Homo sapiens: one gene and its partners. The protein of the gene in region 4 interacts with the protein of the main gene of each other region in a pairwise test. Each region holds a gene or a part of one and is shown on either strand. Other genes may lie near its edges. The genes, in order: OPRM1, ZDHHC15, TMPRSS2 and C2CD2L.

Region 1 (7,027 bases), on a different chromosome or scaffold from region 4:
AAATGTTTCACAACATTTTATAGCAAAGTGAGAAGTCCTCCATTCTCCCCTTCACTAAGCTAGTGGAGAATATAATACAAAATAGCAACCTAATATATAGTCTTTCTCCATGTTAATGCCAATGAGAGGATAATCACTAGTTTTGATTATGCTTTTTCTTATTTTAGAACCTCCCCCCCCAACAGACAGACAGACACACACACACACACTCACAAGTAAAAACGCACCTGGGATATCAGAATGGAATAGATGGATAATAATGGATCAATTAACTCAGGTAGATACTCATTTGACCATATTCTTTGCCTAAATAATTACTTGAAATGTAGGAAAGTATCTTTATCTCATTGGATTGATCCAATTAAATATGAGTATTAAAGTATGACACTCTAGGGAGGATTTTTTTCTCGACTAAAAAGGTTAATTTCTATGTGAGGGTAAGTGGACATAAAAGTCATGGCAAATGCAAGAAATATATCTTTCCAAGCACATTGCTGAACATATAAAAGGGGCTTGTTGAATTCTTACTGAATTAGGTATCTTTCTTCACACTACTTGGTAAAAAAAATGAAAAGGCAGAAAAATTAGCCCCAAAAGAGATGAAACTCTTCCGTCCATCACCATTGACTCTATTGTGAACTTATGAAAAAGGTAGTTGAGCAATATGAAGGCCATGATGTGGAATTAAACACACACACACACACACACACACACACACACACATGCTGGATTCTAAAATGTGTCCTTCCTCCTCTCACTCTCTTGATCAGTTTTATTTCTGAACTGAGACACGATCACCACAATTCAAATAATTAACCACAAAACTAAACAGAAGTTTACAAAACCCATCAGGTGTACAGAGGTAATTTATTTAGTCTGGCTTCACTTAACACAAATAGGTCAAAAGCAATCACATTTTGTAAGTAGTAATAGTTGGAGAAATGTGTGAAGAATAGGTCAAAAGATAAATAAGAATTATTTTATAACCATAAGAAAGGAAGAACATCTATAAACAAAAGTCATATATGCAACATAAAAGAATAGGTGAGCTGCCAGCAAATGGGCCTCACAATGCCTTTTCCCCAACACTTCTGGAAGTTCCATAAAAATCACTCTAATGGGTCAAACATCGATGGTTCTCAGAAGAACACAATTTTTTTCAAAAACGAATAGCATTGTAAATTCATTTGAATTCATAAAACAAAAGAGCTATTTAATCATCTAGACCAAAGTTAAAGAAATACCTACTACAAAAATTTTAATGGGATAATTAGAAAGAAATAGCTTGGGCCACTGCTTCGAGCAGAAGATGGAGTTCAGTGGCTACCATAGGAAGGGTCAATATCAGGATGGCCTGTGAGTCCAGATGAGTCTCTCTTTGCCCATTTTGCCACAGAACACATTCACAGCACAGTACAAAGCAGTAGGCATGGAGTAAGGAAAAAGGCTTGTGTTTTAATAGCCAGGAGTTCTACTCGGACCCACTCAGGTAAACTGAATGGCAAAGATAATTCTTCCTGCAGGTCATTTCTTTTGCTAGTTTGCTAACTCTGAGTCCTATGCTCCTGTGCAAGGCCCATGATGTGACTCTGAGCATTCATTGAACTTTGCTGGGACAACATTCATGCCACCACATCAGAACAGAATGAAAGCTTGCCCTTTTTTTTTTTTTTTTTGAGACAGTGTCTCTCTCTGTTGCTCAGGCTGGAATGCAGTGGTACGATTCTCCTGCCTCAGCCTCCCAAGTAGCTGGGATTGCAGGTGCCTGCCACCACCCCCAGCTAATTTTTCTAATTTTAGTAGAGACAGGGTTGACCAGGCTGGTCTCCTTCCCCTGCCCTCAAGTGATCCATTCACCTCAGCCTCCCAAAGTGCTGGGATTATAGGCTTGAGCCACCAGGCCCAGCCCACATTACTCCTTTTCTGATTAGACCATCTCTTCAGATTAAAGCCTTTGGGTATATGCTGGAGGCAATTGGAATTCTTAATCCTTTAGCTTTGTATAATTTTCTTTCACATATTTAGAAGATCGTTGAGCCCCCTTTTATATGTTGCTGTGATCCAAAGCATGAGTAACTGGGGTAAGAATGCTGGCTATCTTTAGAGGAAGACTTTTTAAATAAATTGAGAAAAATTAAACAGCATCATTCCTATAAAATGCCCGTTGAAAGAATTTTTATAGATAAATATTCACTTTTTTTTGGTAAATTGATGATAAAATTATGTATATTTACCATATACAACATGATGTTTTGAAATGTATACACATTGTGGAATGGCTAGCATGCTAATTAACTATGCATAACCACGTTTCCTTTCACCATGTTGAACCCTGACATAATTTTTTTTTCCACAAACACCTCACTCTGGAGAAGGAAATGATTTTTTTTAATTAAAATAAACATACATTGGAAATACTTAGTGCTAAAATAAGCCTGAAGGAAAGGTTGGAAGTATGATGAGTCAGAAAACTGACTGTAAAGAAACCAATTACTTAACATAAAACACCATTAAAGATAAGCCACGAAATGTAAGGTCTGCTGGGTAGGAAAGTGGCAAATGCAATGAAGCATGTCTTTAGATCATGCAGGTCTATAACCAACGGTGAATCTAGCAAAAGTTATTTTCTCTTTTGGGGAGAAACTTCTTCTTATTAAAAAAATAAAAAATGTTTCAACTTCTTGAGCACCAAGGTCAATTATTCTAAATCTTAAAACCACAGTTTTAATTTTGCTTTTTTGTTGGTTTTTGTACTTTGGAGTATTTGTCTACATTATCCTTTTTATATTTGCCATATTTAAAGTCCAAACTAAAAGCAAATTATTTTCTCTCCTCAAGTTAAATGGCTCTATCTTTTTCTTTAAAATCCATTAAGAAAGTGAAACTCCCAAAGTAAGTCCAAAAAAAAGCCCCCAAGTCTGAAAATGTGGAGCTTTTCTGGCAGTAATGCAGCTTCTGCAAGTATTGCAGACCAGATCAGGTATCAGAATTTTAAAGCTTCAGTAACAAAGCTGTCCTATTGACCCTGAGGAGATTTATGAAATCACTTTCCTGATGTTATTGAAACCAAAACACTTTCCTGGACACTGAATTCAGTCCTAAACAAAGGGCCTCCAACCAACAGCTGTCTTGGGCTGAATGAGTTAGACTCAACCTCGTGTGACGGAAAAACAGTAAACACAAGCTAACATTTAAAAGGAATTGATGGCACCGTGTAAATCAGAAGCCCAAGGAGGGCCTGGCTTCAGGTGTGGGGTTCTCTCTCACGCTCTCAAATCCACATCCTCCGGATTAGGTCCATTTTCAGACAAGCTCCTCCAGCAACTACATACCATGCGTCTTCTCAGGTGTGGGTCCTGCAGGAAAACTAATACACTCTTTGTCCATAAGTCTCAAAATAAACTCTCACTGGCTCTGGTTGGAACATGAGAGCATCCTTGCCATTCACCATGGCCCCGGTCACTAAACGTCTTCACGCCCTGGACTGGTAATACAGCCTATCCCAAAGCACCTGGACTGAGAACGGGAAATGAGTGGTTCCCAGAGTGAAACTGAGGTACTATTACTAAATTAAGGTAAATATATGTGGAATGTTAAAAAAAAAATGATGTCCAATGTTTACAAGGTATACTTCTGCCATCAGATATAATGTATTATTGCAAGTGTACCTGCTTATATTCTACTATCATATTTCTAATTTCTGCAGGCCTTGAAAACATATAACACTCCTAGATACTTACCCAGGAGGAAGAAAAGCATATGTTTATATAAAGACTTGCACATGAATGTTCGTAACAGTTCATTTGTAACATCCAAAAGTTGTATGCAACTCAGTTCCCATTAATAGGTGAATGGATTAAAAAAAAAAACAGATGAATGCATAAGTAATACTACTTGTCAATAACAAGGAATTAATTCTTGTTATATGCAACCACATAGATGAATCTCAAAATAATGACACTGAGTGAAAGAAGCAGCACAAAAAAAGAGTACATACTGAATGATTCTATTTGCATCTTCTAGGAAATGCAAACTAATCTATAAGAACAGAAAGCAAACCAAGATCAGCAATTGCCTGAGGAATAGTGAGGGTTGGATATGAGGACAGGGAGGGGCAAACAGGAAAGATTAAAGAGCTACACAAAGACACTTTTGGGAGCAATTGATGTCATTATCTTCATCAGAGGTTGACATTTTTTTCTGTAAAGTGCAAGATAGTAAATAACTTAGGCTTTGCATGTCATCTGATCTCTGTTGCAATTATTGAACTTTGCCATTGTAGCATCAAAACACTTATGGGTTTTTAAATAGGTGTATTTATTTATAAAACAGGCAACGGTCCAATTGGGTCTACACACCATAGTTTGCCAATCTCTGATCTTAATTATGGTGGTGGTTTCACAGGTGTACACACGTATCAAAGCTTATCAAATTGTATACTTTAATTATGCGTTATTTATTATAGGTCAATTCCACCTCAATAAAGCATTAAAAAATAAAAACAAAGCAAACACACTTGGGTTCCTCATCATGGATTGGATAGAGTCTAATCTTACCATGGCATACAAGTTCTTCATGTACTGGCCTCTCTTCTTCCCCAGTCAGATCCCTTGCCATTCCCTGGTAGAATGTGCTTGACACACACATCAGGCCATTCCAACTCTACATCTTTGTTGGGGTTCTCTCTGTTACCTCTCTGTCTAGAATGACCTGCTCCTACCAAGTGTCTAACTCAATCATCCTGCTTGTGCTTTGAGATTAAACTTGCACTTCCAGGATGCCTTCCACATCTTACTCCTACTATTCCCTTTGCCTTATGCTCTGTGAGATGCCTCATCTCTGTGCCCCATAATCGCCTGTGTGTTTGTATGTGCATGTGTTTGTGTACATACCTATAGACACTTGCACAATTATACTTCTTGATAATTTTAACTATATTTATATAGCTAAAATTTTCTCTTTTATATTTAGAATTACTATCCAGTCGCTGCCCCTACTATTTGACTGGAATCTCCCTCTTTCTATTAGACCTATCACAATGACTGACACATTACAAAAAAAAAAATTAAAACCCTCACTGCGTGTGGTGTCTCATGCCTGTAACACAAACACTTTGGGAGGCCGAGGAGGGAGGACTGCTTGAGCCCAAGAGTTCAAGACCACCCTAAGCAACATGTCAAGACCCTGTCCCTACAAAAGTTTTTTAAAATTAACAGGGTATGGTGGCATGCACCTGGGATCCCAGTTATTCAGGAGGTGAGGCAAGAGGATCTCTTGAGTCCAGGAGGTTAAAGCTGTAGTGAGCTCTGTTCATACCATTACACTCCAGCCTGGGTAACAGGGCAAGATCCTATCCAAAAAAAAAAAAAAAGGAAGAAACTCAACAAAGCAGCATCGTTGCTATTATTGCAGCTATTTAGCCAATAGGTACATCATTGACATCATTGTAAATAGCCAAGCTGATACTGGAAAACAATTCTATATCTAATCTCAAAAAAGCTTTCTACTAATTCATGCAAATTTATTATTGGAAGCTTACCTATATTTTACACTAGTGTCTTTTACTGATTCTCACTCTTCTTCCTTTATCTCCTAGATACACCAAGATGAAGACTGCCACCAACATCTACATTTTCAACCTTGCTCTGGCAGATGCCTTAGCCACCAGTACCCTGCCCTTCCAGAGTGTGAATTACCTAATGGGAACATGGCCATTTGGAACCATCCTTTGCAAGATAGTGATCTCCATAGATTACTATAACATGTTCACCAGCATATTCACCCTCTGCACCATGAGTGTTGATCGATACATTGCAGTCTGCCACCCTGTCAAGGCCTTAGATTTCCGTACTCCCCGAAATGCCAAAATTATCAATGTCTGCAACTGGATCCTCTCTTCAGCCATTGGTCTTCCTGTAATGTTCATGGCTACAACAAAATACAGGCAAGGTGAGTGATGTTACCAGCCTGAGGGAAGGAGGGTTCACAGCCTGATATGTTGGTGATGTCATAAGCAAAGCAGTATTTATGGAGTGCCCCATTGTCTTAGTCACATTGTAATTTTAATTATTCTTCCTAGCAAAAAAAGCCTTTGAATACTTAAAAATAGGAATTTTCCTCATAATTTTAGGCCTATTAAATCCTTTAAAGAGAATGTAATCTATTTATTTCTGATTTCTCTGTATTTACTTCATAAAAATGGTGTGTAAATTAGTACATAGCTCTCCCAAGAGTAATTGGAGCTTAAACCCAAAGAGTATTACACTGAGGCTTGTTTAAAATTATCAAGTGGCTGACTACATGGCAAATGTATCTTTCTACACCTAATATCAGAATATTGAACAATCCATCAAAAAATGAAGTGAAAACATCCATTACCTGGAGCCGCCTAGAGACTTTGGACAATTATTACATTTTTTATATCAATATAGACCTCATGGAGGATCTAGCTCATGTTGAGAGGTTCATTTTTGTTCCCTGAACGAAAGCTTAATGTGATCGAAGTGGACTGCAAAATGGGAAATTTAGAAAAAAACAAAAAACATTAGAAGTAAAACTTTCTTTGAAAAGTAACAAACAACTGAGTTTCTTCCACAATTTCTTTATAGCCTTAAGTTAGCTCTGGTCAAGGCTAAAAATGAATGAGCAAAATGGCAGTATTAACACCTTATGACATAATTAAATGTTGCTGCTAATTTTTCCTTTAAATTCCTTTCTTCTAGGTTCCATAGATTGTACACTAACATTCTCTCATCCAACCTGGTACTGGGAAAACCTGCTGAAGATCTGTGTTTTCATCTTCGCCTTCATTATGCCAGTGCTCATCATTACCGTGTGCTATGGACTGATGATCTTGCGCCTCAAGAGTGTCCGCATGCTCTCTGGCTCCAAAGAAAAGGACAGGAATCTTCGAAGGATCACCAGGATGGTGCTGGTGGTGGTGGCTGTGTTCATCGTCTGCTGGACTCCCATTCACATTTACGTCATCATTAAAGCCTTGGTTACAATCCCAGAAACTACGTTCCAG
Region 2 (7,027 bases), on a different chromosome or scaffold from region 4:
ATGTCACAAGTTGGAGTGGGTGTGCATTTGTTCTAGGGGACCCTTCAGGATATTTTTAACTTACTCTCCAGTATTTGATGAAATAGCTGAAGACTGTCGTAGCAATGTACAGGCAGTAGAGAACAGAGTAAGCTAAGAATTGAAGGAAGAATTTGTAGTTGGAAAATCCAATGCAGTTATTAACCCTAAAAAAAAAGAAAAACTAATTTGACATCAGGACCTCTTGATTGAGAGCACACTGATACATAAGTGAACTAAGCAATGGAATAATGCTAGTTCTGCTGCTTCATTATGTGTCGTGTAAAAGCCCAATAGAGATAGAAGTCCCTTAATAAGAACAAACTGGATAAAACAAGTTCATGTCTCACTTGTTTATTCTTTCATTTACAGGCACAGAAACACCTGGCCTGCCTAATAGCTCTGGACTGGTTCGTGACACATCCAAGCAAACCTGGATCCTGGTTGCTAAAAATGTATTACAGTTTTAGCAGCTACATTTGGTACAGTTGTGGCATGTTCTTTTTGTAGTTAGGTGATTTCAGACTGGCCCGCAGGGTCTGATATACAAAATTTGGAAAATTGCTGAATTTAACATTCTAGAATATTTCAAACATCAAGCCAACTAGAAACAGAACTGAATTGTGTAATGTTAAAAGGAGAAATGTTTGTGCTGTATTTCATTACTATGCTCAATTGCTAAAGTTAATGAATATGAGACCATTAGCTTTGTAACTCCAGGAATTCACTACCATACCTTTGGTGTTATATTTTTTCTTTATTTAAAATGTTACCCCTCCCCTGTCCCCTACAGAAATATAAAACCCAGTGAATTATGGTGGCAGAAACAGGCATGTGACAACTATGCTTAGAAAAGTGCATATAATTGAGCAACTTTGACCCCTTTAGAGGAGAGAAATGAATCAAACAGACATACCAAGGGCAGTGATGATCCATTTTTAACACACACCTACGAAGGGGACAAAATACAGTGTGATAAGTGAGGCTATGGAAATGAAGCAACATCTCATAATTAAACTCAAGGTTTCACCAGTATTTTTACATGGTTCTAATAACACCCATTCTCAGATTTCCACTATAGTGACTCCAAAACTGTGGCCCTCAGTTATTTCTAGGATGAGGTAATCACAACAACACTTTATAGGATCATGCCAGCAGCAAGTTACATGCTTATAAGTCCAACCTTTCAAAGGGATTGGAAACTCCAGATTATTAATACAGAGAAAAGGTTCAAGATGTCTCCTATCATTTTATTCAATACTTAGTTTAATAAAAATACAGAAGAAAATATATGGCTATAGCCTCTATCTGAATCAAGGGTAAGAAAAATATGGGTGGAATAAGTACTCAAGAGAAAAGGCATTACATGTATCAATATAAAAATGGGGTTTGCAAAGCTGGAACAATTTGGGCAACAAAAAAGTAGTATTGGGTTATAATGCAAAATGTAAAATGAATATTTATGCTTTCATACTGATATAAATAAATGATTGAATAAATAAATAAATGAAGAGAAGAGATAAATGTCCCAAGCAAAATAACTTGAAATAATTTGTGTAGATACTCCACCTTCAAGGATGGAGGGCATAACTTTCCATTCCTTTAGTGTTGGCTGTGCATAGTGACTTCCTTTCAAAGAGTAAAGCATAGAAAGGAAGAACAATTTTACAGTGGTGAAACCTGACATACTACCTCAGCCAGATGATCAAAATTAACCTTTCAGTGATAAGTCATGTTTATAGGTACCCTTAATATGATGTAATGAGAATGGCACCTTACTCTGTCGTCTTCCTCCCCCAGATCATATTACCCCAGTCTAACAATGATGAGGAAAGCATCAAACAAATCTCAATCAAGGGACACTCTATGACCTACTTGACCATTAATCCTAAATACTGTCAAGGTTATCAAAAACAAGTCTGGGATACTGCCACAGCTAAGAGAAGCTAAGGAGATGAGACATCACTATTAAATGTAATGTGGTATCCTGGATGGGATCCTGGAACAGATAAAGGACATTATGGAAAAACTGAGGAAATCTAAATATAGACTTCAGTTAAAAATAATGTATCAGTATTAGTTCATTAATTGTAACAAATGTATCATACAAATATAAGATGTTAACAACAAGGGAAACTGGGTGTGAGACATACAAGAACTATCTTCACAATAAATCTGTAAGTCTAAAACTGTCCACAAATACAATGTTAGTTTTTAAAATGTGGTCTTACTTCTCTTACTTATCTTTAGAGTAGCTTGGATCATCATCATCCGTGTGAGGGGTTTTGGCATATGCTCATTATAATTGAAAGGAAATGCTCTTATCTAGGTATGATTACATGTTAGGATCAGTCATTTTGTTGTCTAGGAAACCTTCAGTGGCCAAGCCCAGCCCAGGGGAAATATGGCCGTCACTTACATAGCACAGACAGAGCAGTGGTGGCAGCGGTCTGGCTTGATCAGATGACACCGGTCACAGAATCGTACAGCTATAAAAAAAAAAATAAGGTGGTTAGCACTTGTTAGGGCTCAATATAAGACCTTATATCTTACTAGCTTATCTGGATGACTTGTTATGCACTGATTATAGATAGTCAAACTCATCTCAAGTTACCAAGCAAAAGGCAGACTACATAAGAGAATTGGGGTATATATTTTTTTCCTTGTTGTATCCAATTTTGAAAGCACTTTTGGGGGCTGAAAGGAACGAGAAAAGTTTCTTATCTGGATATCTGTCATAAGATCTTTCATTATAAAACAAACTATACTATCAAATGCTTGAGGGATCTTGAAAAACCATTTAGCCTCTATTTACCCCCAACTTTCTGATCTGAAAATAAGGATTCACAGTTTATCTCCTGTCTCCAGAGGTTGGATTGTATGTGGTGGATAACACTCCTAAAACATGGTAAAGAGAGTGGTTTCTAGAATAATAATTTGGGGAACAGAAGAGACATTCTAGAACAATTAGTTTAATTGACCATTTCACAGATAAAGGAAATAAAGATCTGGGTCATATCAAGTGATTTGCCCAGGGTCACACAGCAAGTTGCTGGCAGGGCTGTGACCTGTACAGTTTTGATGATTTCTTATTTTAGGATTCTTTTAACTCTGTAATTCTTATTTTAGGATTCTAATATAAAAAAATCATTCCTCCTTCCCTCCCTCCTTCATTCCTTCCTTTCTTCCTTCCTTCCTTTCCTTTAGATGAAAGGTATTTTACTTTCCCTCTCATTTTCTAGATGTTCATTGATAGAGTACGACTGTGTTTAATGTGATTATTAAGTATAAAAACTAAAATGATGAATAATTTGAACTAATATAATCATTTCATCTAAAGTGTACATTAAGCACATATTACTGATTCAACACAATAGACAGTTAATTCAGCAGAGATTTGTGTTTACTTCCACTAATGGAAGTATGTGAGTGACTAAAGTCGTGGGTATAATTGAGTCAAAGAGGAAGGGAGAAGAACATGCATATCTGGGTCCTTTTGCATATTTTAAAATATACTGTCAATGCTCCTATCCTCATTTAAGCCACATTGTCTCTTAGCTAGTTGACTGCAATATCTGTGTAATTTATCACTCTGCTTTCATACTTGCCCCTCAAAAGACCTACTATACAGAGTAGCTGGGTGATCTGTCAAAATCTACATCAGATCTGGTGTAGTGGCTCATGTCTATAATCCCAGCACTTTGAGAGACTGAGGCACAACTATCGCTTGAGACCAAGAGTTCCAGACCAGCCTGGACAACATAGTGAGACCCTGTCTCTATAAAAAAATAAAATAAAATAAATTAGCCAGGCATGGTGGTGTGCACTTGTGGCCTCAGCTACTTGGGAGGCCGAGGCGGGAGGATTGCTAGAGCCCAGGAGTTCGAGGCTGCTGTGATCCATGAATGAACCACTGTACTCCAGCCTGGGCGATAGAGCAAGATCCTGTTTCTAAAAATAAAAAAAAAAATGTAAATCAGATCATATCACTCTCCACTTAAAACTCTCAATGGATTTCCAACACCTTCAGAATAAAATCCAAACTCCTTACCATGGCCTGTATCATCTAGCCTCTGCCTATCTCTTCAAATGAATCTTGTAAAACTCTCCTCATACTATGTTCCAGTGAAACTGGCTGCCTATCTGCTCTTGTAATCAAGCTTGCTCCTGTTTCAAGGCTTTTTGTGCTTGCAGTTCCTTTTGCCTGGGATGATCATCCCTCTGCTCCTTTTGGTATGATGGTTAATTTTACTTTTTTTATTTCAATAGGTTTTTGGGGAACAGGTGGTGTTTGGTTACATGGATAAGTTGTTTAGTGGTGATTTCTGAGATTTTGGTGCACCCACCATCTAAGCCGTAAACACTGTACCCAGCATGTAGTCTGTTAACCCTTGCCACCCCCTACCCTTCCCCCTGAGTCCCCAGAGTACACTATATCATTCTTAGGCTTTTGCATCCTCATAGCTTAGCTCTCACTCATAATTGAAAACATATGATATTAGGTTTTCCACTCCTGAGTTACTTTACATAGAATAATGGTCTCCAACTCCATCCAGGTTGCTGAGAATGCCATGATTTTGTTCCCTTTTTATGGCCAAGTAGTGTATATTTTTTATGGCTGAGTAGTGTGTGTGTGTGTGTGTGTGTGTGTGTGTGTGTGTGTGTGTATATATATATATATATATATGTAACATTTTCTTTATTCACTCATTGGTTTGGGCTGGTTCCATATTTTTGTAATTTGTAATTGCAAACTGTGTTGCGATGAACATGCCTGTGCAAGTGTCTTTTTCATATAATGACTTCTTTTGCTCTGGGTAAATACCCAGGAGTGGGATTGTTGGATCAAATGACAGATCTACGTTAGTTCTTTAAGGAATCTCCATACTGTTTTCCATAGTGGTTGTAGTAGTTCATATTCCCACCAGGAGTGTAAAAGCGTTCCCTTTTCACCACATCAAAGCCAACGTTTATTATGCTTTGATTTTTAAATTACGGCCATTCTTGCAGGAATAAGGTGGTATTGCATTGTGGTTTTGACTTGCATTTCCCTGAAAATTAGTGATGTTGAGAATATTTTCACGTTTGTTGGCCATTTGTATATCTTCTTTTGAGAATTGTTTATTCAGGTCCTTAGCCCACTTTTTGATGGGATTGTTTTTTTCTTGCTGATTTGTTTGGGTTCCTTGTAGATTCTGGATATTCGTCCCTTGTCACATGCATAGTTTGTGGATAATTTTTCCCAGCCTTTGGGTTGTCTGTTTACTCTGCTATTTCTTTTCCTATGCAGAAGCTTTCTAGTTTAATTAAGTCCCATCAATTTATCTTTGTTGGTGTTGCATTTGCCTTTGGGTTCTTGGTCATGAACTATTTGCATAGGCCAATATCTAGCAAAGTTTTTCCAATGTTATCTTCTATAATGTTTATGGTTTCAGGTCTTAGATTTAAGTCTTCGATCCAACTTGAGTTCAGTAGATTTTTGTATATGGTGATAAATGAGGATCCAGTTTCATTCTTCTACATGTGGCTTGCCAATTATCCCAGCATCATTTGTTGAATAGGGTGTCTTTCCCCACTTTATGTTTTTGTTTGCTTTGTCAAAAATCAGTTAGCTGTAAGTATTTGGGCTTATTTCTGGGTTCCTATTCTGTTCCATTGGTCTATGCACCTATTTTTATACCTGTACCATGCTGCTTTGGTGACTATAGCCTTGTAGTATAGTTTGAAGTCAGGTAACGTGATGCCTCCAGATTTGTTCTTTTTGCTTACTCTTGCTTTGCCTAATGCGGGCTTTTATAGTTTCACATGAATTTTAGAATTGTTTTTTCCAGTGCTGTGAAGAATGATGGTGGTAGTTTGATGGGAATTGCATTGAATGTGTATATTGCTTTTGGCAGCATGGTCATTTTCACAATATTGATTATACCCATTCATGGGCATGGGATGTGTTTCCATTTGTTTACGTTGTCTATGATTTCTTTCAGCAGTGTTTTGTAGTTTTCCTTGTAGAGGTCTTTCATGTCCTTGGTTAGGTATATTTCTAAGTTTTGTTTGTTTGTTTGTTTTCTGCTATAGTAAAAGTAGTGGAGTTCTTGATTTGATTCTCAGCTTGGTTGCTGTTGGTGTATAGCACTGCTACTGATTTGTATACATTAATTTTGTAACGTGAAATTTTATTGAATTCATTGATCAGATCCAGGAGCTTTTTGGAAGAGTCTTTAGGGTTTTCTAGGTATATGATCACATTATCAGCAAACAGTGACTGTTTGACTTCCTCTTTATTCATTTGGATGTCCTTTATTTCTTTCTCTTGTCTGATCACTCTGGCTAGGACTTCCAGTACTATGTTGAATAGAAATGGTGAAAGTGGGCATCTTTGTCTTGTTCCAGTTCTCAGGAACAATGCTTTCAACTTTTCCCCATTCAGTATAATTTAGCTGTGGGTTTGTCATAGATGGCTTTTATTACCTTAACATATTTCCCTTCTATGCTGATTTTGCTGAGGATTTTAATCATAAAGGGATGCTGGATTTTGTCAAATGTTTTTTCTGCGTCTATTGAGATGATCATGTGATTTTTGTTTTTACTTATGTTTATGTGGTGTACCACATTTATTGACTTGCCTGTGTTAAACCAACCCTGAATCCATGGTATGAAACCCACATGATGATGATGGATTATGTTTTTGATATGCTGTTGAATTCGGTTAGCTAGTATTTTGTTGAGGATTTCTGCATCTATATTCATTAGGAATATTGGTCTGCAGTTTTCTTTTTTAGCTATGTTCTTTCCTGGTTTTTGGTACTAGGGTAATATTGGCTTCATAGAATAATTTAGGAAGGATTCCCTCTTTCTCTGTCTTTTGGAATAGTTTCAGTAGGAGTGGTACCAATTCTTCTTTGAGTGTCTGATAGAATTCAGCTGTGAATCCATCTGGCCCTGGACTTTTTTTTGTTGGCAATTTTTTTATTACCATTTTAATCTTGCTGCTTGTTACTGGCCTCTTCAG
Region 3 (7,027 bases), on a different chromosome or scaffold from region 4:
CTTGCTGTTATCAACAGCATCGAGTAATGATAGGTATCTGGAATGTTCAATATGACCTAGAAGAAAGAATTACAGGACTGTAATATTTCCATACCAGTTAGTTTTTAGAAGATAAATCTGGAAAGAACTAGAAGAATCTCTAGATGAAGGTTACCTACAACAAAGACCAGTGTTGCCTGCTGACCTTTGGCCTGCATCTTCACCACTGCTTCCCCACATCCCTCCATATTTAAGGACTTTGGGACCCACTTGTGCCTTAGAGGTTACAGCAGAAGCACTCTCCTCTGGGATCAGAGTGGGTAGGAGGATGGGGTGCAATTGTAAGTGCAGCGGCCAGGACAGCCTGACCAGAAAGAAGAAGGAACACACTCAGTGACTCAAACATCCATCGGGAAGGGCTCTCAGGGGACTGCCTGGGGCTCAAGGCCACCCACAACTCCAGTGCCACTAAGCCCAGGCATCCTGCTGGACTTAACCCAGTTCTCACCAGGAAGCTGTGATATCCCCTATACAGAACATCTACTCAAGGGAGACTGTATGGCATAAAACACTGAAGAAACACGACAAGGTAACTAAACCCATCAATGTCAGCAGAGATTAAGGACAAGATGGGCCCAGGAGGGAAAGACCTGGGCCAGTTCCTGGCAACACAGCTCCCTGGAAGTGTCGATGTGTGAGTTACTGAACCTTGTTGAAATCTCAGGGTCCTCATGGGAAAACGGACAAAGCAATCACCACAGTTGTGTTAAGCTGAGGGTTGTGGGAGAGTGGGGAAAGAGTGCCTCACAGTACTAGGAACTGAGGAAGAGCAGGTGCAATCAGACCGTCTTTCCCCGAGAACGTCCACAGGCACTGCCAGTAGCCACCCACTGCCCAGCGGGTGGTTCAGGGCTCAGCACCAAATACAGCTCACAGTTGACTTTTTAAAGCAGGCCATGTGGGCCCTCTCAATTTTTAATAGATACATACGCTTAAAATAATCCATAAAACATGTCCACAGTCACTCCATTTACTACCCCAAACCCAAAAAAGAAAGAAATTCAGAGCCAACCATTTTGACCACTGCTAAGATTAGCAGTAATGAAAAGAAAGCTGTGGGCCATTTTGCTTGTTGTCCTTTGTGAACAGTTAACAATAATAGCTAGAGATGCCGTCAACACGAAATGCTGTATAGTAAAGCCGCATTCTGACATCACTCTCCATGGACAAAGATTCTTCGCTTGATCAAACTTATATCAAGCTCCTGAACCTTCTAGGCCATCTGTGCATTTCCTTGTAAAATCCAGTTTTAGCAAAAAACCTTGCTCAGTCAGTTTAGCCAGAACCTCCCACCCTCGGTATCTGATCACTCTGGATATCTGATCGGGTTCCTCAGCCTCCACCGTGCCACAGGTGATGTCTGATCACCCAGCCTGTCTTCAGCAAGAATCCTGTTTGGTTGGTTTAGCCAGAATCCCCCTTACCCTTGATGTTTTCTCTTTGTGATTTTTCCACCCACCAACCCCACCCTGATCCTTGGTTATAAATTAACTCCCACTTGCCCATACTGTACTCAAGCGGATCCCAGTCTCTTCTTCCCACTGCAAAATCTGCTGGCTGTGGTCCCTGTACCTGCCTCCGTGGTCCTGAATAAAGTTCGCTTCACCATTTTAACAAGTCTCATTGGACGATTTTTTTTTCTTTAACATGCACCTTCCTGAGCAAATAAAGGGCTTTTTTCCACCCCTTCCCGCTTGGCTTTAAATGACCAAAGAATATTTTAAGAAACGGGGTTCAAGATTATCCGTCCACAAGACCATGTTCCCAATGAGGGAACAAGAACCTGGAGGAGGCTCTGGGCTTCGGACCTGGCCAGACCAGTGTCCACTGTCTGTGACATGGCCACAGAAGAATATTTCCCAGTTGCTGGCACAAAGCAGGTGCTCAAACAGCAGCAGGCAGCACTGGGCAGCGGTTCAGCCCCTGACCTCTGAGACTAGACTCTAGATCCAAACTCAGGCTCAGCCACTCACTCTCCATGACCTGGAGGAAGCTATTGAAGGTTCTGTGCCTCAGTTTCCCCATCTGCAAATGCAGATAATAGTAACACCTACCTCCAGGGCATTCCATGAGTTAATACTAATGAAGTGCTTCATGCTTAGCATAAAATGAGTGCTATATAACTTTCCATTAAATAAGAGGAATTATAAAGCTGATAAACATTTAACAACCTGCTGAAGGAAAAGAGGGCTGTCTTGATTCGCAGGTTTGCCTTCGGTAAGTATTCCCAGGCTACCAACATGAAGCCCACCACGGAGCCAAGTAGAGTGGGGCCGGCTTCAGTACACCATCGCTTTCCTGTGTCCTAAGCAGAACTGGTTGCTGAATCATTAAACTATAAAACCCCAACAGCCTGCCATGAATGAAAATGAGTATATGGCTTTTTAGTCTCGAGAAACCTCACCCAACAGGTTACAACAAACATGCACCAATCATTTATTTACTCTTCAATTACAGATAAAAATACAAGAACCAGGTCATGTTGTAGCTTTGGGACTTTTTCTAGGATTAAAACTAAAGTTCACACCTTCCTGGGTATAAGGAAAGGAAAGTGACTAATGTACAGGTGGGAAGGATCACCATTTAAAATGTATCAAAAACGTTTAAGCCTTTTAGCCACATCTTAACAGACCTTGCCTATGTCTGCTTTGTGAAGAGAGAGGATCCTCAGGCTTGACAACACAATAAATCCCGCATTCTTGTCTCATAAGCAGGACAGAACTCAGTACCATCCTAAGATTGCTTTCAAAGAGTCCTGCCTAACCAAACACATCCTCATGCCTCTGGTTTCTCGGCTGTCCTATCTCCCCAGTTACAGGTTTGGTTGAAGTTTCAGGAAGTGAAAATTCGATCCCATTGGCAGCTCTCCCAGCTCAGAAGCCCTCTGAAAGGAGTGAAGAATCAATACTCAAAACCCACACTTGCTATTCATTCACGATCCCTAACAAGGAAGCCAGGGAAGGAAGGAACACCGGGAGCCACCACCATTAATTGTCAAATAAAAGCCATGGGACCCAGAGGCAGTCACAGGATAATCCTATCTCTTCCAGCAATCAGAACATGATAAACAAAAATATTCCGTGTGCCCAAGTCAGTTACCATGGACTTTGGAATGGAAGACCAGAGTGATGCTGCCAGTAACATTCTCCAGCTGGGCCGGGCACGGCGGCTCCTGCCTATAATTCCAGCACTTTGGGAGGCCAAGGCGGGCAGATCACCTGAGGTCAGGAGTTCAAGACCAGCCTGGCCAACATAGTGAAACCCCATCTCTACTAAAAATACAAAAATTAGCTGGGTATGATGGTGGGTGCCTGTAATCCCAGCTACTTGGGAGGCTGAGGCAGGAGAATCACTTGAACCTGGGAGGCAGAGGTTGCAGTCAGCCAAGATTAGGCCACTGCACTCCAGCCTGGGTGACAGAGAGAGACTCTGTCTCAAAAAAAAAAAAAAAAAAAAAAAAAAAAGAAACAACAACAACATTCTCCAATTGAAAATAAAACAAGGGGGGGAATGTCCCGCTCTGACATTAGATCTGCAAGGGGAAGCACTGCTGTCCCGAAAAGACCAGGAAATCACATTCAGTCCTGTTCATCTTCAAAACAGGCATTTCCTCATTCACACAAGCTTGTACATCGCATTAACTCATTTCTGAAAGGAGCAAGACGTAAAGTAGATGGCGAGAGACAATGCTGTTTAGCGAATGCTTGCTCCTGTCATTTAAAGGACCGGGATGATGGCTCTCAATTCTGGAAAGCCAGCCACCATGAGCACTTGGGGAAATTTTCCTTTAAGTGTGAAAGAGCAACAGTGGGTGGCACTCAGGCTCCATTCCTGGCTGGCAGGGAGCTCTTCCTTCAATACAGACAGTGTCACCCACTTGAATCTCACAATGGCACACAGCTGTCCTCGCACTGTTTTGGTCCATCCTGGACTGAGAGCTGAGTCAGCCCATGAGTCACCTGCCTGGCCACCATGCAGCAGGACGATGCTGTGGCATCGTATCCGCATCCCATGACATGATGAAGTTACTGCCAAAACAAGAATCTTTTCTCCTAGTTTCTCTCCTCTGGAGATCTCAGGACACGTTTACTGGAGACTTACTTTCCAAACAACCAAGCCAACGCGAATGAAGTTAGGCTTGTAGACACTGACTCCCACCCAAGATCCAGGGGTATTCTCTGCAATGAAGTCTCCACTGACCTCACCGTGCACCATTGTGCACACACCTTCTCCTTCTCGAAGCCCCCACCTGTGACTGGTACGGTTCGAGTTGCTGGAGGTGTGAGAGGGAACAGACAGCCTCAGACTCAGTGCCCCTTCTTCAAAATCCAGACAGCACCACCACCACCATCCACGGACACATCCCAGCCAATGACCAAATCATCAAAAAGAGCCCTTTATGCCAAAATAACCGCACTAATATCACATTATACAACGAGATGTTCTATCCTCCTAAGGATAGAATGCATGACTAAATGAGTTAGCCAACAGTGGATTTCAGTGGCTGTTCAGCAGAAACTTGTTTATGTATAATCAGGTAAATTGCATACACAATGATTGGCACAAGAGTTCTACTGAGAGAGAAAGGTTGAGCGAGAAACAGAAAGATCACCTTAGGAGAGGTATTGCCTGCATCATCCAAGTTTCTTTTCCTGTGAATGACTCATTGTCCCAAAGAGATTACAAACTTTTTAGGGCAGATATCAGGTCTGGTTCTCTCTCTTTCTGTTTGTTTTTTAAATCTCACTTTGTAGCTTACAAAGACAGTATTTAAATGTTTTTATGGAGTTCTTACCACCTGTACCCCAAAAACTATTGGGGAAAAATTAATAAGCATGTTTGGCAAAGTTGAGGGATACAAGATCAATATAAAAATCTATGTGTTTTTATATACCAACAACAGACGATCGGAAATGTAAATTTGAAATACAATGCAATTTGCAGGAAAAAATATATATTTTTTGAGTTCCAAAGGCCAAATGAGTAAGATGAAATTTAGCAGAGGGCGATAAGATGCCCACACCCAGACAACACCAGCAGCCCAAGTCAGGACAGTGGGTGACCTCCCAGGAGTCCAGGTGCCTCAAGCTGAGTGCAACCTGGCATGACAGGCAGGCAGGCGGCAGAGGCCCTCAGGTCACTCCAGGCGGAGACTTCAACACCACACACAAGCCACTGGCTGAGGCTTAAAGAACTTGTCCAAGTCAATCTGTAAAATGGGGATGATACAGAAATAGGGTTGTTGCAGGGATTAAGTGAGAAAGCAAGGCCGTAGCTCAGTGCCCAACCCATGGTGAGCACTCAATAATAACATAATGATGGCAGATAAGGTTTATCTTCCAACACGTAAGAGCCGGCTATGTGGAAAAGGAATTCAGTTTATTCTGCATACATCCAAAGGACAATACCAGAATCATGATCAGAATTTCCAGAAGAGCAGGCTTGGATTCTATCTGGGGAAATCAAGGTTCCAACAATTAGAAAGTTCACATATGGCCTGGAGCTACCTTAGAATGTACCGAATTCCTCAAACCTAAAAATGTATGTTTCAAGACTGGAGGATCATTTCTCCAACATATTCCAGAACAGAATTAGGCTTGAGCATCAAGACCAGACATAGTGATCTTTCATATTACTCCCAACTCCTTATAAATGCATCATCACCAGTGAACTTGAAAATGTCAGCAAATTCTCTGTTATCAGTATCTTGCACAAAGAACTCCAAGCCCATCGTCCCTAGAAAGCATGGTCTCCCATGACCCCTGGGCTATACTGCAGTGGGGTCAGGCTGAGTGCCCCGCCAGGACAGCCCCTTGGAAAGCAATGGCCTTAAAGGGAATTTGACACTGCATTGTGCACCTCGTACAAACAAGCAATAATAAAAAGCCTCAGCTTAGTTCCATCTGCCAAGTCAGACCTCGCTTGAAAATATTTTTCTAACAAATCCAATTGTCACAACCTCTCATTCTGAGTCCCACTTGACAGCCCCGATTTTTCCACCTAGTCTGCCCTTGAGTGAACTTCCAGACTTCTGCTGCCACAACCACAAGCCAAGGTGCCCTTCAAACACTTCCTGCTTTCTTACCACAACTCTGTGCCCTAAACTCCTCCTGCCCTCCTGCCATGGATGCCCAATGGCTCAGCGCCATCCACACATAGATGTCAGAGCCCTCACCTCCCTCTCCCAGACTCACCTCCAGGAGGATGAAAAGCCTGTCTTCGAGTTTCCTGCCCTCTCAAACTTCACTCTGTTTACAACAAAAGTAACCACCCACACCCCTGCCAGAAAACCAGCCTCGACTCCCAACCAGCGCATTTCCACTCATTCAGTTCCTCTCTCCTGACCATTGCTCAGCAACCAGGAATAACCAAGTCCCAGATCAGGCTCTGCCTCCTCCTGGAGCCCAGCCTCTGTTCTAGGTCATGCTGAAGAGCTGCCTGTGTGCTCAACCAAGCTGCTACCCTGTCACAGATCCCCCTTTTGCTCCTCCTTGGGTGTCCACAGGCTCGGTGGGGCCAAGGTGGTCAATGGCCATGGGGACATCATAAGCCCCCTTCTTCACACCCAGGCCCATACCCCTGGTGCTTGCAAGTCAGGGCTTCCCAAATCACCCTTAGGGCCAGGAGGGGCCCCACAAAGGCTGACTCCATACAGGCCTCAGCTCTCAGGTACATAATGCTCCTGCACCCCAATCCTGAGGCCACGCAGTGCATCCCATATTGGAGGATCCCCTGGCAGGTGTCCTGGAAAGTAAGGAGGGGCGGGGAAGAGTAGCAAAGGCCTGGTGACTGTGGGATGAGGGACACTCAGGGAGTGCAGAGCAGGAGGGACCAGAGAGCAGAAATGCACCTGGGCCTTCAATGCTCCTGGGCTCTCTGGTTCCCCACAGGGAGCTCTCCCTGCCCTCACTCTCCCCACTAGCAAGGCCACTTTCCAAGTCTTCAGCAACCAAAACTGAACAAGCACTCCATTGACCATTCACCTTTC
Region 4 (7,027 bases):
TACTAGTTGATTGAGTTTTTTGCTACAATTTCATACTCCAGAGCCTCCTGTCTCTTCCATCCTTTCTCTGCACACCCCTTCTTCCCTGCAGGAACTTCTTAGCAGATCCACAATGTGTGTCATCTACCCAACCTCATTATCCGGGCCCCTGTCTCATCCTCCCACACCATCCATGTCACAGCCTGGCTGCCTACTGCCTTTCAAAGGATAACCAGTTGTCCAGTTTATAAACTCCAATTTGACTTTAATAAATTAAATTCCAAGCCATCACACAGCAATGGACATCATCATCGTCTCCCAACACACAGAGGTGCAGCCTTGCGTGGCTCCATCATCACAGTCTTTAAATAAAGCCCCTAAAGCCATCTCTCTGGGGAAGGCTTCCCACCAGGCTCCCGGCTCCCTCCTTCCCACAGAGCCACTGCTCACAGAGAAGGCATCAAGTACAAAAAACGGTAATAAAGGGGGAGGGAGGGATGAGGAGCAGGAGGGGAGGCAGGAAGGTGGGGAGTACCTGCCCCCCATCCCGGGCCGGCCCTGCTCTCTGTGAGCTGCCAACATTCTCAGAGGCAGACACTGGTGCTGGTCTGAGTGGGGACCTGAGGGAGGTGTGGGAGCCCCATCCCAAAGGGAATTACCCACCCTCCTGGGACAGAAAAGAAGGGTCACCTGGGAGAGATGCCCTCTATCATCTGTTCACGGAGGGTCCTAAGCCACACATATAAATAGAAAAGAGAATAAATAAGGGAAGAAGGGTCAGCTGAAGAGCTGAGCACCCTGGGACTCCGCTCAGGGACCAGGCTCAGCAGGAGGCAAATGCTTCTGGGGAATACCCACACATGCCGGACAGGGCCCTCCTCTCCCTCCCAGCCACCAGTCCCTCGTCCATGTCCTCGGCACCGGGTGCCCACCTCTCATGTGCTTCCCGTTCCAAGTATCCTTCCAACCGGCCCCATGGCCCAGGGTGGACGGGGCTTCCCGGAACCCAGAGGGCTTTCCTGGCCCAGGCACTGGAGATCCAGGAAGGGGTATGGAAGGGGAGGTGGGGAATGGGCTGAGAGAACTCGTGCCCTTTCAGAGCTGGGTCCTCAGAGCTGGGGGCTGGGGTTACCATTGGCCTTGGGTTTGGATTTGAAGGAAAAGCGCTTGATAAGGCGGCGAGAAAAGCTGCCGGCCTTCTTTCGGACACTGGGCGTGGCCGTTGCGTTGGAGAGGTCATCGTGTGATTGGCTCAGGCCAGCTTCCTTCTGCCTAGGCCTCCGGCGGAAGATGAGCTTAGTGCCGCTGCGCAGGAAACTCACTGCAGGGGAAGAGGGGAAGCTGAGGCAGAGAGGGGCACGGGGTGGGGTGAGACGGGGGCAGAGACACGATGGAGAATGGAGGGAAAGAGGATGTGGACAGGATCAGTCCCGTGGCCCAGAAGCCAGGCTTCCTCAGGAAAGAAAGCAGAAACATACTTCTCCATAAGGCTTCGTGAAAAAAAGAAAAAAGAAAACGAAAGCAGAAACAAACATGTGCTTTATCCTTCCTGAGGCAAAAATCGTGGTACTTGTGGGGATCTGTGTACAATCTTAACTCTGCCCGCAAAAGAGATATCACGGAGCTGGCCGCTTTGTGAGGACAAACTGGGATTGGGCCTCTTTCCTATGGGAAGACAAAAGCTACCAGAAGGTACTCCCAAAAGTCTATAAATCATGAAGGGAAAGGTAGGTTGACACTGACTTGTTAACCGAATTCCAGGCTGTGAGCAGGAAGTGGTGCATCTAGAAACTTCAAAGAGGTAAATTCAGAACCAGTATAATGAGCAAGGTGCTCACCCAGCAGGCTTTGGAGGTAGAAACCTCATTATCTCAAGAAGTGATGCAGGCTTAAAAAATAGATAGATAGATCCATGGTTGATAGTCTCACTGGTAGAGGAATGAAGATGTTTTAGGGTGAGCCTCTCATCTTTTAAAGTTAGAAGAACTACCACCACTGGTCACTGCCTGTCTTGCTGCCAGATGGATAATCCAAGGGTAGGATTTCTTATACTCATTGGGGAGAGGGTGCAGATTGAAAGGGAAGAATTTTTTTTTTTTTTTTTTTTTTTTGAGACAGAGTCTCACTCTGTCACCCAGGCTGGAGTGCAGTGTCATGATCTGGGCTCACTGCAACCTCCAACCCCCCAGTTCAAGCGATTCTCCTGCCTCAGCCTCCCAAGTAGCTGGGATTATAGGCGCCTGCCACCACGTCTGGCTAATGTTTGTATTTTTAGTAGAGATGGGGTTTACCCATGTTGGCCAGGCTGGTCTTGAACTCCTGACCTTGTGATCCACCCGCTTTGGCCTCCCAAAGTGCTAGGATTACAGGCATTAACCACCGTGCCCAGCCATGGAAAAAAAAAATTTTTTTTGAGACAGGGTCTCACTCTGTCACCCAGGCTGGAGTGCAGTGGCACAATCACGGCTCACTGCTTCAACCTCCTTGAACCTCAACCTCCCAGGCTCAAGGAATCCTCCCTCCTCAGCCCCCTGAGTAGCTGAGATTACAGGTGTGTGCCACTACGCCCAGCCAATTTATTGTATTTTTAGTAGAGATGGGGTCTCGCCATGTTGCCCAGGCTAGTCTTGAACTCCTGGACTCAGGTAAGCCACCCGCCTTGGCCTCCCAAAGTGCCGGTGTGAGCCACCACACCCTGCCTAGGAATAAATTTTTATAATTTTTTTTTAAAGGGCAGGAAAAATGGCACTTAGACTCAGGAAGAAAGAACAATGGAGGTAAAGGGAAATAATTTGGCATCCCTTCCTATCACAAGCATGTCAGATCTAGGCCAGGAACCAAGGCACCAAGATCCCCCTCTAGGCTAGCTTGGCTGAACTAGGCTGGGAATCCGGCTATCTCTTAGGGGAGGAAGGAGAAGGCACACTGGCTCGAGGTCCCCCAGGTCATGATATGTGTATAAAAGAAGAGATGAGGGGCACCCTGCCAACGTCCCCCTACCTTTGTGATCCTTGAGGCTGCGGGTCTCCAGGGCACCAGTGGACCCCGTTTCCGACTCAATATCATCCACAGATGGCCTCTCAGAAATATCCGAACGGGTTGTCTCGTCTGCTTCCTGGACACTTGTGGGACTAGAGAGGGCATCTAGCGGTCCTGGAGACATGGCTGGTGGGTCTGAGGGAGGTGAAGAGGGGCCTCCGCTGGTCCCTGCATCATCCTGCACTGAGGCTTCCAGGGATGCCGCATAGCCCAGGGATAGCGCCAACTCGTCCTGAGCAATGGGCACCTGGCAGGAGGGACGGGTTTTAATGGGCAGGAGTGACCGACCCATTAGGGCTTTCTCCCCATCCCAGCTCCTCTCCCCAGAGCCCTGTTACCTTGGAAACACCAGAGATGATGAGAGTGCTGCGCTTGGTGGGTGTCTTCTTGGCCACCCGCCCACTGGGCTCTGTCAGCTGGCGAATCGCTGTCTCTGCTACAGGGTCCAAGCCGTTGGAAAGGTGGCTGTCCCCTGCTAGGGGTGCAGAGAATGAATAACCTGACTTCTCCCTGGCTCTTTCTTGGATTGGAACTCCTCCTATCCCACCCAGAGTACTTTTTGATGCTGGGGCACCAGGGCCAACCCACACTCATGCACCCCATTCCCCACTCACGGCTGCTGCTATGGGAGGTATTGCTGGGGCCACTGCTCTCACTCAGCACAGTTGTCGTCTTCTCGGTCACCTCCACCTTGGACGGGGAGCGGGAGGGGGAGTCTGGTGGGTGGGGGAGGGTCAGTGAGCTGGGAGTTGCTTCAGAGTGGCCCCCACCCCTACTGTCTTTGTTGAGATGCAGACTTTGGGTGACTCAGAGGGCAAGAATGATTAAAGGGTGATTAATCACAAGGGTGATTAGGAAGATGCCGTGGGGACTAAAAGACACCCCAGGAGCTAATGGGAGTGTAGGAAAGTGCCATGGGGCCTGCTGAAGGTGTGGGGAGATGCTATGAAAATATGGAGCGGGGACAGAGGGGGTACTGGGGCTCCCTGAAGTTGGGGCAATTCAGTGGGGCCCCTATAATGGCAGAAGTGCCATGGGGGCCCACTGAGTGGGGTAGAAATGCCACAGAGGCCTCTGGGTTTGTTGGAGGACCCCAGGGGGTGCTGGAGGGCTGAGGGTAGCAGGATGGACAATTATAGTCAGCTGGGGCTAAGGACACCTGTGAAAAGCCAGAGGGGAAGCTGGAAGGTAGGAGTGCAACAGTCCTGTATGAGGAGGGGCAGGAGGATCCAGAAGGGTGGCAGAGTGAGAGGAATTGCTGGGGAAATGGCAGGAGGTAAGGGAAAGTTTGGAAGAGACAAAGATTGGGAGGAAGATGTGGTAGGACTGGAATGGAATGTCTGAAAACAGGGGGAGTTGGAATTAAGGCTCTCTCCTCTTTCACTGTCCTGCCTTGGGTCTGCAGTCCCGGGCCCCTGGCTAGAGCTGGGCTCCCAGGCTCCTTCTCTTTACCTAATTTGCCGTCTATACGGGGCCGGGACTGGACAGTGGTGACTGTGGTGACAATGGTGCCATCGGGCATGATGGTCCGGTCAAGCTCAATCTTCTTGGTAGGTGTGATGCTGGGGCGTGGAGTGGAGGAGGTGGGAGTACCCAGGTTCCGGGGAGAGCCCTCCTCATAGTGAAGCTGCCCAGGGGTGGGAGAGAGAAGAGACAGAGCCTCGGAGACTGCCCATCCCCTGTGTCCTCCCACCTACCCCAGGGGTCAGCTTCTCACCTCCACTGCCATGGTGGCTGCTGGTCCCAGGGCTTTCCCTGGCCCTGGGGTGAGTGGGCACAACTGTCTTCGAGACAGTGGTCTGGAGGGGGAGCCCACAGGCAGTGTGGCCTGGCCTAGGAGTTCGGCTGGGGAAAGGGATGGCACTGTGAGCTGGGCCCATGGCCAGACCCCACTCTGTACCCACCCAGGGGTGCCCCTCCCACCCCTCACTTACTGTCTCCACAGCTGCTGCTCCTCAGCACTTTGAGGGTCAGCTCCCGGCTCTGGGGGCCCAGATCCCTGTGGGACAAGAGGAGATGGGGCAGGAAGGAGAAAATTAGCAAGCTGAACCCACACTTGAGTGGATCACAGGCCAGAGGCAGAGAGCTGTGTACATAAATAAAACGGCATAAATGCTCCAATCAGATTCTCCTGGCCTCCAAATTCTCTCTCGTCCCAAGAGAAAGGGACAGGGCCTGAGTGGAAACCATGCTTCTCAGCTATGCATTCAAATCCTCCCTGGTCCTGCTCTTCCTGTCTTGCCAGTCTCTCAGTTGCAAGCCACCCTCTTTCATTTGCTCCAGCTCTTCCCTCTGCCGAGAATACTTTCACACTCTGATGAAATCCTACTCTTGCTCTAAAGTGTGGTTTAAATGTCATCTCCTCCATGAAGCCTACTCTGATCCTTATTCCCTCATGGGAATTAATCTCCCCCCCACCTAGGCACTCTGACGGCACATTACATAAACCTCAACTGGAGCGGTTTTACCATCTTCTTTATGTACACCTGTCTCTGCCTCAAGCTTGTCATTGACCCAGGGGTGGGGGCTGTATCTTGGTCAAGTCTGTATCCCTAAGACCCACGCCAGGGCCTGGCATACAATAGGAGCTCACGCCAAAGGCTACTGAAAACAGAGCTGATTCCTGCAAGGACTGTGCTGGAAAGGTTTGATCCTCTCTGCTCTGGAGCATGGGGTCGGGGCAGGGTTACTCCTTACAGTGCCAGGTCTTCTGTCCACTCCACCTCGGATCCAGCCCTCGCGGGCTTGGTCCACTTCTGCTGCATGGGGTTGTCGAGTTCAGCTACACAGCACAGTTCCTCGGTGCCTGTGATGAACCAGAAGTTAGAAGATGCTCAGATCAGAGATGGGAAGTCACTGCAGAATAAAGAGGCTGTACCCTTGGCAGAGGGGCAGAGAGCATCTGCAACCAACCATAGCCTTGGCAGTCCCGCAGCCACTTCCAGCTCTCACCTTCCAGCTCATTTCCCAAGTGAGATGCCCGAAGCTGCCGTAGGAATAACCGGTTAGGTCTGGGGATGGCTGGCTGAGCCTGGGGCATCATGGGTGGCTTCTCACTGGGTACCTAAGAGCAGAAGAAGGTCCAAAGAGCAAGAATCCTGACATAGCACCCTAGGAACAAGGTGCATGCAAATCTTTTGCTTTGGGTGCCAACTCACCAGGCCTCCTGGGGCAGAGCAAGCCCTGAGGTTGACCATCATGGCTGGCTGGGTGCTGACTATGGCATCCTTGATCAGTTCCTCAATTGTGGAGAGCTCCACTTGTTCTTCACCTCTCTGCAGAGAGAAGAAGGGAACAACAAGGAGGTGGATCCCCCACCTCTGCCTCCCTCCCCGTTCTGCCTCTTCTCTGCCAGCTCTGCCTCCTTACCTCCCTGGCCTGAAGCTTGGGAAGCACCGTTAGGCTGAGATCTGGGCGATCAGTGAAGGCCCAGGATATGAGCAGCCCCTCACCAGGGATTTCCTCCAGGTTGACTTCCAACTACAGACAGGAACAAAGTGACTGGGCTGACTTGCCCCATTTACCCAAGGACTCCTAATTCGAGGACTCTCCCTTCCTGAATTCCATCCCAGAGAGGAAACAAATGGAAGAAGCTGAGCCAATGGAACCGCCCCTGCCCAACTCAGTTTCCCACATCCCCTTCTACCTGTGTTGGTGGCAGTGTCAGAGTGACGTGGTAGGTCTCCATGGAGACGGCAGCGGGGGACTGCTGGGTCACAGAGACTGGGAACCGCACCTCCTCAGCAGAGAGCTGGCAACGCAGCACCTGAGACCGGCGAGGTGGGTCAGATGTGGGGGAAGGGTGCTCACCCTGCTTTGAACTGCCCTGTAATAGTTCAGCAGACCCCTCCCCACTTCCGTTTTCCTAAGGACTTCATGTTTTCAGGATCATAAATCCCTAAAAGAATCAGATAAATGCCAAAGACTCCTCTCCCCAGAAAAATGCATATAAACACACATCCAACATTTTGCACATAACTTCAATGGGATTCTCAGACTTCCTGAAACC

Evidence for each region.
Region 1: the proteins of C2CD2L (region 4) and OPRM1 interact in binary tests that used the Homo sapiens proteins (3 or more experiments, as listed by UniProt).
Region 2: the proteins of C2CD2L (region 4) and ZDHHC15 interact in binary tests that used the Homo sapiens proteins (3 or more experiments, as listed by UniProt).
Region 3: the proteins of C2CD2L (region 4) and TMPRSS2 interact in binary tests that used the Homo sapiens proteins (3 or more experiments, as listed by UniProt).

What each region holds. Positions count from the first base shown.
Region 1 is NC_000006.12:154,084,230-154,091,256, forward strand, and holds part of OPRM1 (mu-type opioid receptor), read left to right. Parts: intron 1-2,277; exon of another isoform or gene 2,278-3,575; intron 3,576-5,532; exon of another isoform or gene 5,533-5,596; coding exon 5,597-5,949; intron 5,950-6,722; coding exon 6,723-7,027. UniProt on the Homo sapiens protein: Receptor for endogenous opioids such as beta-endorphin and endomorphin. Receptor for natural and synthetic opioids including morphine, heroin, DAMGO, fentanyl, etorphine, buprenorphin and methadone.
Region 2 is NC_000023.11:75,429,014-75,436,040, forward strand, and holds part of ZDHHC15 (palmitoyltransferase ZDHHC15), read right to left. Parts: intron 2,508-7,027; coding exon 2,438-2,507; intron 968-2,437; coding exon 935-967; intron 186-934; coding exon 65-185; intron 1-64. UniProt on the Homo sapiens protein: Palmitoyltransferase that catalyzes the addition of palmitate onto various protein substrates.
Region 3 is NC_000021.9:41,498,134-41,505,160, forward strand, and holds part of TMPRSS2 (transmembrane protease serine 2), read right to left. Parts: intron 57-7,027; coding exon of another isoform or gene 1-56. UniProt on the Homo sapiens protein: Plasma membrane-anchored serine protease that cleaves at arginine residues. Participates in proteolytic cascades of relevance for the normal physiologic function of the prostate.
Region 4 is NC_000011.10:119,110,318-119,117,344, reverse strand, and holds part of C2CD2L (phospholipid transfer protein C2CD2L), read right to left. Parts: intron 6,785-7,027; coding exon 6,665-6,784; intron 6,499-6,664; coding exon 6,388-6,498; intron 6,294-6,387; coding exon 6,177-6,293; intron 6,083-6,176; coding exon 5,971-6,082; intron 5,825-5,970; coding exon 5,716-5,824; intron 5,018-5,715; coding exon 4,953-5,017; intron 4,864-4,952; coding exon 4,736-4,863; intron 4,646-4,735; coding exon 4,471-4,645; intron 3,735-4,470; coding exon 3,633-3,734; intron 3,494-3,632; coding exon of another isoform or gene 3,491-3,493; coding exon 3,357-3,490; intron 3,266-3,356; coding exon 2,980-3,265; intron 1,321-2,979; coding exon of another isoform or gene 1,301-1,320; coding exon 1,089-1,300; 3' UTR 1-1,088.